Linked DNA regions of Homo sapiens. The protein of the gene in region 1 purifies or fractionates together with the protein of each later gene. This does not show direct contact. Each region holds a gene or a part of one and is shown in the gene's direction. Other genes may lie near its edges.

Region 1 (5,248 bases):
AATGTGAAGTATTTTTGAACAGGTATGCAATAGATTAAAGTAACAAGTAAAAGTTTGGTATAAGTCTACTTTTCATTCAAAACTCGATTTAGGTATCTTTAAACTTGTTGCAGTGGGAGAAAATGGTAAAACAACACAAGAAATAGGCTCTGCCCTCCAGGAATTTAAAATCCAGTTGATACATATAAATATGGAAAGTTAGTTGTTATTAAAAAGCAGTATGTAAATAGCCATTCTTGTTTGTCACTTATTTATTCTTCTTTTTCTGAAATACAGACTGGATAAAAGTCAATATTTTAAAAATTATTCATTATGATTTTAAGCTTAGACTTTTAAGCTTAGAAATTCCAGTCATACAGAATTTTGAAAACATTACCTTCTATTTTTAAATGTTTAACTTTTTTTTTTTTTTTTTTTTTTTTTGAGCAACAAGGCTGTTTATTTCACCTGGGTGCAGGCGGGCTGAGTCCGAAAAGAAGAGTCAGCGAAGGGGAGATAGGGGTGAGGCCGTTTTATAGGATTTGGGTAGGTAAAGGAAAATTACAGTCGAAGAGGGTAATTCTCTGGCAGGCAGGAGTGGGGGTCACAAGGTGCTCAGTGGGGGAGCTTTTTGAGCCACGATGAGCCAGGAGAAGGACTTTCACAAGGTAATGCCATCAGTTAAGGCAAGGACTGGCCATTTTCACTTCTTTTATGGTGGAATGTCATCAGTTAAGACAGGAACAAGCCATTTTCACTTCTTTTGTGATTCTTCAGTTACTTCAGGCCATCTGGGCGTATATACGTTCAGGTCACAGGGGATGCGATGGCTTAGCTTGGGCTCAGAGGCCTGACAGTCCTGCCTTCTTACAGTAATAAGAAAAATAACATAAAATAGTATTGAAGTGTTGGGGCAGCGAAAAAAAAATTTGGGTGCGGGGGGTAGCATGGAGAGATAATGGGCGATGTTTCTCAGGGCTTCTTCGAGCGGGATTAGGTGTGGCGTGGGAACCTAGAGTGGGAGAGGTCAACTTGCAGGAGGATTTTGTGGTAAGGGGTGATATTGTGGGGTTGTTGGAAGGAGCATTTGTTGTATAGAATGATTGGTGATGGCCTGGATACGGTTTTGGATGAATTGAGAAACTAAACGGCAGATACAAGGTCCGAATAAAAGAAGGAGAAAAATAGGTATTAAAGGACTAAGAATTGGGAGGACCCAGTACATCCAATTAGAGAGTGTCCAAGGGCGTTCAGCATAATTACTTGCTTGGTTGGCAAGTTTTTGGACCCTATCCTTGAGTTTTCTTATGTTGTCATACACCAGGCCAGATTGATTTAGGTAAAAACAACACTCTTCATTTAAGAATATACAGAGTCCTCCTTTTTCAGCAGTGAGTAAGTCAAGGCCTCGGTGGTTTTGGAGGATAACTGCAGCTAAAGAGTCAACTTGGGCCTGGAGGACTGATAAAGTTTGTGATATGTCTGTGATGCTAGCAGAGAAGACACTAGAGAGGCTATGGAAGGTCGTGACAGAGGTTGAAATGCCTCCTATTCCAGTACCGAGAGCAATAGTGGAGGCAGAAAGTCCTAAACCAACAAGCAAGGGAATTAGTGGAATAACTCTTTTTTGTCGTGTTGGTGTCATGAGGGGAACAGGGAGCTCTTCGGTCCTATTTGCAAATTGAATTTTGGGAGTAAGGAAAACTAGTGTGCATGTACCTGTCCAATTAGCAGGTAGACACATGGAGGTAGAGGATCCACAGAGGAAGAAGAGACCTTGTGCGAGGCAAAACTGGAGATGCAAAGTAAAAAGATGAGGAGTGCTGAAAGGGGTGTCTTGTACCCAGACTCCTGGGGATCCAGCTAGGGCGGCAGCCACCAGAGGTTGTAATGGGGACTGGTGGGGTAACTGCGTAGAGGGGGAGGTTCGATTTTCATGGTATATGAGAAAATGTTGAGTGTCTATGAGCTACCTTTCACTGTTATTTTCGGGGCTGGGTATAAGTAAACAAGAAGAGGGCCTGGGAGGAGGGTCTGATGAGCAAGGGGAAGGTAGCCGAGGATGGAGTGAAATACAGGGTAAGTGTCTTCCTAAGCAATAATTACTGCTAATATTTTTAAGTTTGCCAGTATTGATAGAGGGCTTTTCTGTAATACGGAGCTGGAAGGCTCCAATTGTTTCGGTGACATGCATAGCTGGACTTTGGAGATGAAGAGTAAAGGAACATGGAGAAGGTGAAGGGTTACTAGGGGAATTCCAGTGGGTCTTTGCCGAGAGATACATAAAGGAGTGGCCACAGGAATAGGAATAGTAGTTTGTGTTGTGAGAGGTCCAAATATGGGGGGAGTAGAGTTGATATAAGGAGAAAGGTTTTTTAAGTAAGTGTGGAGGAGGGCGGCAGCTTGCTGATATGAAATGTCTGGGGAGGTCTTGCTGGACCTGTCTAGAAAGTAAATGAGTTCTTCAGGAGGGTAAAGGTGAGGGCTGTTAAAGGAAGTTCAGAGGTATAGGGAGACAGATGTTGCCCAGTCTACATGTAAGGTGGGGGCAGCTGTGTAGGCGCTGGAAGAAAGGGAAATGCAAAGCCAGCAGTTGTTCAATAAGGAGAGATTAGAAATGGCTAGGAGAGAATAAGTAACGTTGGTAGTGTGGTGGAGATAGCTGGGGAGAGGTAGAGGGTGACATAAGAATGGGAATGATCCCTTCATTCTATTAGGTCTGTTTGTCCTTACCCTACTTTTTGCAACAGGGCTTTACGAAGTTACCCCCACTACTTGGACCGAGCCCCAAAAACTAGTCATCCCTACTATCTTCTGTCTAGTCATACTCCTATTCACCATTCTCAACTACTTATAAATGCCCTACTCTTGTTTACACTGCCGGTTTACACTGTTTTTCCAAGCCATCACAGCTGATATCTCTTGGTGCTATCCCCAAACCGCCAGTCTTAACTCCCTCTTAGAGTGGATAGGTGATCTTTGCTGGCAGGGGACCCTCCAATACTTCCACCCTGATGAAGTTCTATTCTTTACTTTTAAGTTTAACTTTTTGATACTTAACTGATCATTTTGACATTTGTTTTATTGTATGAGATGATATATTATGACTTTCCAGATAAATGTATAATTATTATAAAAGGATTTTTTTCTAATCTACTAGTTCGTATTTCCTCCTTTATCATACGTGAAAATTTTATATATTTTATGTTCTACTTATTGACACTGTCTTCATTTGGCTTATCTGTCTGTTTTACAGGTATATTTCCCAAACTAATAGATATTGTAGCTTTACCTCATATTTTATTGTCTCCCTATCTGTAATGTCTGTCACTGTGTTGGGTATCATTGCAATGACACCTTAGAAAAATTAAGGCGGCTTTGGTAGGTAAACATGGAATCATGTACATGGCAGTAAACATTAATTAAAGTAGGTATAAATACTGTATATTGAGCTACAATATATTTATTTCCTATTCCTTTTCTTAGCTGAGGTACAATTCAAAATTTGAACCTTTAAAAGTAAACAATTTCATGATGTTTAGAACCTTCAAACGTTGTGAACTACCATGTTTATCTAGTTGAAAAACTTTTCCCAAAAATAAATCCCTTACATACCCAACAAGCAAATCACTCTCCATTCTCTCTCCCCTTAGCCTCTGACAACTACAAATCTTCTTTCGGTCTATATGGATTTACCTATTCTGGATTTTCATGGAATAGAATCACACAATATTTGGCCTTGGGCTTCTTTCACTTAGCATAATGTTTTTAAAGTTCATCCACATTTTATTCCTTTTTATGGGTGAATAATAGTCCATTGTGCATGTATATCTATAAATATAGATACATATATACTTATATGTATCTCTATATCTATAAATACATATATATTTATATGTATCTCTATATCTATAAATATTTATAGTTTTATGTATATCTGTAAATATAGATATGCACAATGTTTGTGTGTGCAGAGCTTAAAGGTCAGCCAAAGGTGAGATCTTAGGACCTTTTCAGGTAATTTCTGAGCATGCATCCAGCTCAGGGCTTGTGCCTGGCCTTCCAGATTTTCAGGATTATGTGGGAGCTTTCCAAAGTCCTTATTCATGAAACAGCTCATTCCCCGGCTTTTCCTCTCAAGCTTTTCAGTCAGTCCTATTGTTTGTTCCAACTGTTATACCTTGCCTCATGTGACAAAAGCTAACACATTCAACTTAACTTTTACAAACATCGTTTGGTAGCCTCAAGGCAGATATCTAAGTCTTCTTTACTGGCAGTGATATCTACTGCTAAAACAATTCAAGAGTCCATAGGTGCTCTGGATTTCATAGAAACTCATGAAAAACAAACTCAGTTACATGTTGTCTGCTAATTCTACAAATAACACCTCACCTGACTTGAATCAAAATTACTACTGATAGCAAGGCCACCTCTTTGCTAGGCCAAACAAACCACCTACAGCCAGGCCCCTGCTTCAGGGTGAGCCCTGAGAACAAGAGAGTTTATATCGGACCCCAAAAGACAAGTGGGTCCCAGGTTGGATAATCTCCGGTAAATTGGTGAAACAATTACAATACTTACTAGGGTTACATGACAACAGTGCCAGTCTACTCCTTAGCTTCTGGAGGCAATCTTTCCTTCTGCACCTCCCTCTGTATCCATGAACGGCAGGATCCTGCTCCCACATAGGGATATGGTGAGCATGCAAGCAGGCCTCTTCTAGTAGACATCCACTCTTTTACCATATTAATTGAGGTTGAGTCTTCAAAAAATAAACAACTTTGACTGGCTCTGACTGACTTTTAGACATGAATGCCCAAATTCCTCTTATTCCAGGAAGCACTCATAAGTTAAAGTGATTTTTCTGGGGGGGTGAATAGCTTTGAGGAAGGGTAAATTAAAGAGGCAATTCCCTGCTCAACTATTAAAATTGGCCCCATTTTGCTAAAAGATGCTTTCATCCCGGTTGTCCCCCAAGACTATTCCTTTGTTCATCCTTGAAATGGACCTTCTCAGTCAGCACGTGATCTCATGGAAAGCTTTTACACTATTGGCGGGCACCACGTAGTGGAAAACAGTCAATCTTCCCTGCCAGTGTGAGTGGTAAATGCTCCAAGATACCAACCAAGGCAAAGAACTGCAGGATTGTGGTCTGTTATAGCTGACTTTGTCAAAGGAATTCTATTTTTTACCATGTTGCCTTTTAACTTCCTGGTGTGGCCTATGTTTAAAGCCACTACTAGAGAGTGAAGGCTAACTATAGACTACA
Region 2 (5,248 bases), on another chromosome or scaffold:
TTCTATGTGGTGCTGATGGGAAATATTTTTAATACTCCACTCTCCTTACCCAAGTTTGTTTTTCTCCTGAGCCCTAGTTTGAAAGCTGTATATTGTTGGAGTGGAGGGAAAGAGAAGGGAAAAGTGGTGATTCAGAGAGCCAAATGGGGCAATGTGGCTTTTAGGCTCTGCTCTCTTGAAGTACCAAGTATTTCACTCTTGGGTCTGCCCAACTGCTTATGAATAAAATTCCTTTGCCTTGTATGGGGACATCATTCGACCTCAGAGCTCTCATTTCTCTTTGTTCTGAGCCCTAGAATGTGACCTGACCTTCTCCTTCCCAAAGCAAAGAGATGGTTAAAACTCACTCTTGAAATTTTTTTGTTGACTTTTCCTTGTGTTGCTTATTCATTCCTCGGCTCTACTTTTTGTCATTTTGGAGTGTATTTCTGGTAAGTGTTTAGGATTTTGTAAACTATTTCCCTACAACCTCTTATTGGAGGTAGGGGTAGAGTTGGGAATGACCATCAATCACATATAACTTTGTTTCTTATTTTGACTATCAGTCTTCAAAATTTATGGCAGGCCCTTTTATATTTGGTTGCTGCTAATAAAATGTTGGCCTTTTTGTTTTATTTTTTGTTTTTATTTTTTGTTTTATTAGATTTTGAAGAAGGGAGATTCTAAAATGTAGTTCAGGTTTTCTCAGTGTCAGCACAAATAACATTTTGGGTTGGATAATTATTTGTTGTGAGGGGGTTGCCCTGTGCAGAGTAGGATATTTAACAACATCCCTGGCTTCTACCCACTAGATGCCAGTAGCATTCCCCTAGTTAAGACAACCAAAAACATCTTCAGACATTGCCAAATATTCCCTGGGGAGAAAAGCACCCTGATTTGAGAGCCACTGATCAATTTTGTTCATTCATCTTTACTCCCCCTAAATACCTACATCCAAATTTTAAATAGATCTTTCTCATGTAGTCTGGCAAGTATTATATCAAAGATAAATACCAGTTTTAGAATAAAGCATTAATATACTCTTACATTTCAACTTAAGAGGCAAATATTAACAGTAGGATTTGTAAACTATTTATTGGAATAAAAATCAATGAATTTTTAAAAATTACAAAATGATTTATGTATGTTAGATATTTTACTGAGTGAAAAAATTCATGCTTTTTTAAATGACTTATTGTTTGGAGTAGTGATACAGTAGATTTAATTTCCCCCCTCATTAATTAAAATCATGTTTTAGCCAAGAAAGTGAACAAAATTCTTATTGGCAATTCAGTTGTTTCCCGTTTTGGAGACTGACACGCTCCAGTTCTAAGTTAAATAATTGTCATGGTAAAGTAATTTCCTTGAAAAGAACAGACATTGATTCAGCCCCTGTTACTCACAAATCCTATTTGAGTCAAATTGGAAAACTATTAAGTTTTTGGGAAAAAAATCAATAGGTATCAGGAAACCATTAGATCTTGTGGCCCTTGCTATATCTTGCATGAGTAATCACTGTAAACAGCTGACAGGTATTTCATTGTTGACACCGAGTGATGCTTGGGGGACCACATCTTGGCAGAGTAGGTGGACAGCTTTAGACGCTGGAATGAGTTTGATTATCCTTGTTTTTCTCCTACACTCATTCTTTTAGACAGCCCTGTCACTAACTGGGCCTGTGATGCTTTCAAAAATCAAATACTTTCCTTGCTGTCAGTTTTCTTTTTCTTGCGTTGTGGCATACTAATCAGGGTATGTGGTTTGGTACTGAACCAATTTCTGTCAAAAGCAAGTTTTAATTTATTATTTAGGAAAAATTTTTCCTAAGACCCAGGTTTTATACAGTACTAAATAAATAGTGTGAGGAATAATTAGTAATGCCATAGAGTATATAATTTTACTTCTAGTTCTACACAGATTACAAGTAAATTTTTTTTGGGCAAGTGATTTTGGAATTATCTATGTTTTGTTTTCCTTTTCCTTTAGAGTGATAATTCACTATTTATGATTGAATGATTATCATATTAAAGAGGTGAGAAAATAAAAATAAGTCTGATGTGCACAAAGCCATACTGCTCAAATTGTTTGATAATATCTGTTAATTAAATTATTATGGCATCGGTAGAAGAATGATGTTTTGTTTATATGTGGTTAGAATTGGTCTTTTTTAAAGGAAATAACAAGAGAGATGGAAATGGAATGGGTATAAATAGTAAAAGGTTCTATCACTATAATTCCCTTTTGCTATAAATAGTTAAAGCTTCTATCACTATAATTTCCATAAGAAGATATATGTGTTTACCTGTTAATTTTATCAGGGCAAATTAAAACATGGATAGAATCATGTTTCTCAGTGTGAAGAAATATTTTTATTTGATGAATATTATATATTTTCAGGTGCAGTGGCTTCTATGTTTTGGGTTGATGCTGAATTAGGGAGTGATATTTATCTTGATGGTAAGTTAAAAAACAGTTTTCTTTTATCTTTCTTGTTTTTTTTTTTTTTTCTGAGACAGAGTCTCACTTTGTTGCCCAGACTGGAGTGCATGGAGTGCAGTGGCATGATCTCGGCTCACTGCAACCTTTACCTCCTGGGTTCAAGTGATTCTCTTGCCTCAGCCTCCCGAGTAGCTGGGACTACAGGCGTGCACCATCGTACCTGGCTAATTTTTGGATTTTTAGTAGAGACGGGGTTTCGCCATGTTGGCCTGACTGGTCTTGAACCCCTGACTTCAGGTGATCCGCCAGCCTCGGCCTCCCAAAGTGCTGGGATTACAGGCGTGAGCCACCACACCCTGCCTCTTTTGTTTTTTAGTAAAATCTTTATGGTTAAGCTTATTGTTGTTGTTCATTCATATTATAACTTTAATTCCTTGCATTGTTGTTCTTTTCACACTTTAGTTTAATGATGAAATCTTTGTTCATATAGATTAAAAAACCCCAGACAGTGGTGGAACTCGATGTCACTCAACTTCCAATTTAGTGCTTCCACTAAGGTTTTCTTTAAAAAAAAAAATGCTTTGTAGGTTTTCTGTATCCTCTGTTGTTTGATTTATGCCCTTAATATAATGTTAGAGCCTTTTATTTTAATCCTCCAGGCAATATGAGGATCATATTTTTGCTTTTATTTTCTCTTGAAGATAAGAATTAAACACTCCTGTCTTACTTTATTTACCTGAACACTTTTGGGCAATGATATGCCTTCATTTAAAATATATTAGAAACTTTCTTAGTTAAGCGACTATGTTTTCTCCCTTTCTCAGTCGAAATTTTCTTACTTTTTCAAAAGTAATAATCATTAAGAAATTTAAGAATTATTAAGCTGGGCCCCATCATTGAGCTCTAATATATGTGGCGGGTAACTGGTTGAATTCCTTAGGCATAATTAAACTCATTCTTTTGTTATCAGCATATATTCAGAGATTGCAAAATGAATTGGTAGTTTGGAAACTTAGGCATATGTTATGTAGAACATTTATGAGTTGGATTTGGATTTGGTGAGAGATGTTAGGAATGATACCTTAAGATGTCTCATTCTTTAGGCAATAATTTAAATCTTAAGAAAAGTCTTGATTTTGATTATGTGAAAATAAACTAGAAATAACCTGTCTTATGTACTTATCACATTTGACTATGTTATGAAATTTGACTTATATTTTGGATTGTAAGCTTTTTCAGTGCCAAGGAAATCTTATTTTCTTATTTATTTAATTTAAAATTTTTATTTGTTTTATATCGTTTCTAGTGCCTTAAAATAGTGCTAGCCACTCAGGAAATGCATTGACTTATTACTGGAATTTAATTAAATGGCAGCACTGGCAAGAGAAAAAAACAGTACATTGTTTTATTGAGTAGTATTTGTGAACTGAAATAGGTTAGTTTTAATTTTCATTTTGAAGTATGGTTGTACAAATATTAATAAACATTCTTTTTAAAAAGTGATTAAAATGTTTTTTCCTTTGTAGGTATCATAACTATTGTGGATTCAAAATATGGATTAAAAGTAAGTTGAAAGATTGCTATGAGTGGGTCATTATTGAGAGCTGGGAATATGGGGATTGATTGTTTAATTTTCTTTATGTTTGTATCTGAAATTTTCTTTAACAAAAACCTTTCTCAAAAAGATATCCTGAACAATAGGTGAAATTTGTGTTTTAATTATTAGTTTGTGTTAAATATTTCTTTTCTATTACTCTGAGTTTGATTTGGTGATAAAATTTGGAATTATAATTTGTAATAAGCATATGGGGTTAGGGTAGAGTTTGGTATGTATAACTCTTCACAAGGATTCAACCCCAATATTGGTAAGTTTTTCTGTTCCATAGAAGAAGCTGAGCTTGATAAAGCATCTGAGATCTTATTTTTCTTGTTAAATTACTATTAAACACACACTGGAAATGAGTTTTTAAAAAATATTGAAGACCTAGGTGATGGGTTAATAGGTGCAGGAAACCACCATGGCACCCGTTTACCTATGTAACAAACCTGCACATCCTGAGCATGTACCCTGGAACTTAAAATTTAAAAAGTACATATTGAAGAAAATCAGGATATACACATAGGATTAGTAAGAAGACCCTCTCCATTAAAAGGCATCTTGCATCGCTTCTTGGTCTTTTGGCTAAGATGAAGTGTAAAAGACATCCTGCTATGAATGTTTTTGTTAACTTCTAAGGTCCTAGAATGCATTTAAATGAGGTTTAATTTATAAAATGCATTTAGTAAGATCTTTAAAAGTATGTTGTTACATACAGTAAAATGATGTTTCTCAACTTCCCAAGTGAAATACCACTAAAGGCAGAAAAGAATGAAATCATCCCACCCACTGACCCGTTCCCAATCTGAGCATATGGATAGGGCCCAAAGCAGTAAGTTCTTGGAAGTTTAAATTCAGTGTTTAAAAATTAGTGTCTGTTTTGTATCCAACCTCATATCTGAACGTGTTAATTTTTTTTTTTTTTTTTTTTGAGACAGAGTCTCACTCTGTTGCCCAGGCTGGAGTGCAGTGGCACCATCTTGGCTCACTGCAACCTCCACCTCCCAGGTTCAAGCGATTCCCTTGTCTCAGCCTCCTGAGTATCTGGGATTACAGGTGCACACCACCATGCCCAGCTAATTTTGTATTTTTAGTAGAGACAGGATTTTACCATGTTGACCAGCCTGGTCATGAACTCCTGACCTCAAGTGATCCACCCGCCTCGGCCTCCCAAAGTGCTGGGATTACAGGCATGAGCCACCACGCCCGGCCTGAACTTGTTAATGTTTAAGT

Evidence for each region.
Region 2: the proteins of KLRF1 (region 1) and ZNG1A purify together in Homo sapiens (affinity purification with mass spectrometry, with the first as the bait; 2 studies listed by BioGRID). This does not show direct contact.

The regions. Positions count from the first base shown.
Region 1 is NC_000012.12:9,833,504-9,838,751, forward strand, and holds part of KLRF1 (killer cell lectin-like receptor subfamily F member 1), read left to right. Parts: intron 1-5,248. UniProt on the Homo sapiens protein: Functions as an activating receptor involved in immunosurveillance upon binding to various ligands displayed at the surface of myeloid cells.
Region 2 is NC_000009.12:161,166-166,413, reverse strand, and holds part of ZNG1A (zinc-regulated GTPase metalloprotein activator 1A), read left to right. Parts: intron 1-1,965; exon of another isoform or gene 1,966-2,011; intron 2,012-2,376; coding exon 2,377-2,436; intron 2,437-3,944; coding exon 3,945-3,982; intron 3,983-5,248. UniProt on the Homo sapiens protein: Zinc chaperone that directly transfers zinc cofactor to target metalloproteins, thereby activating them.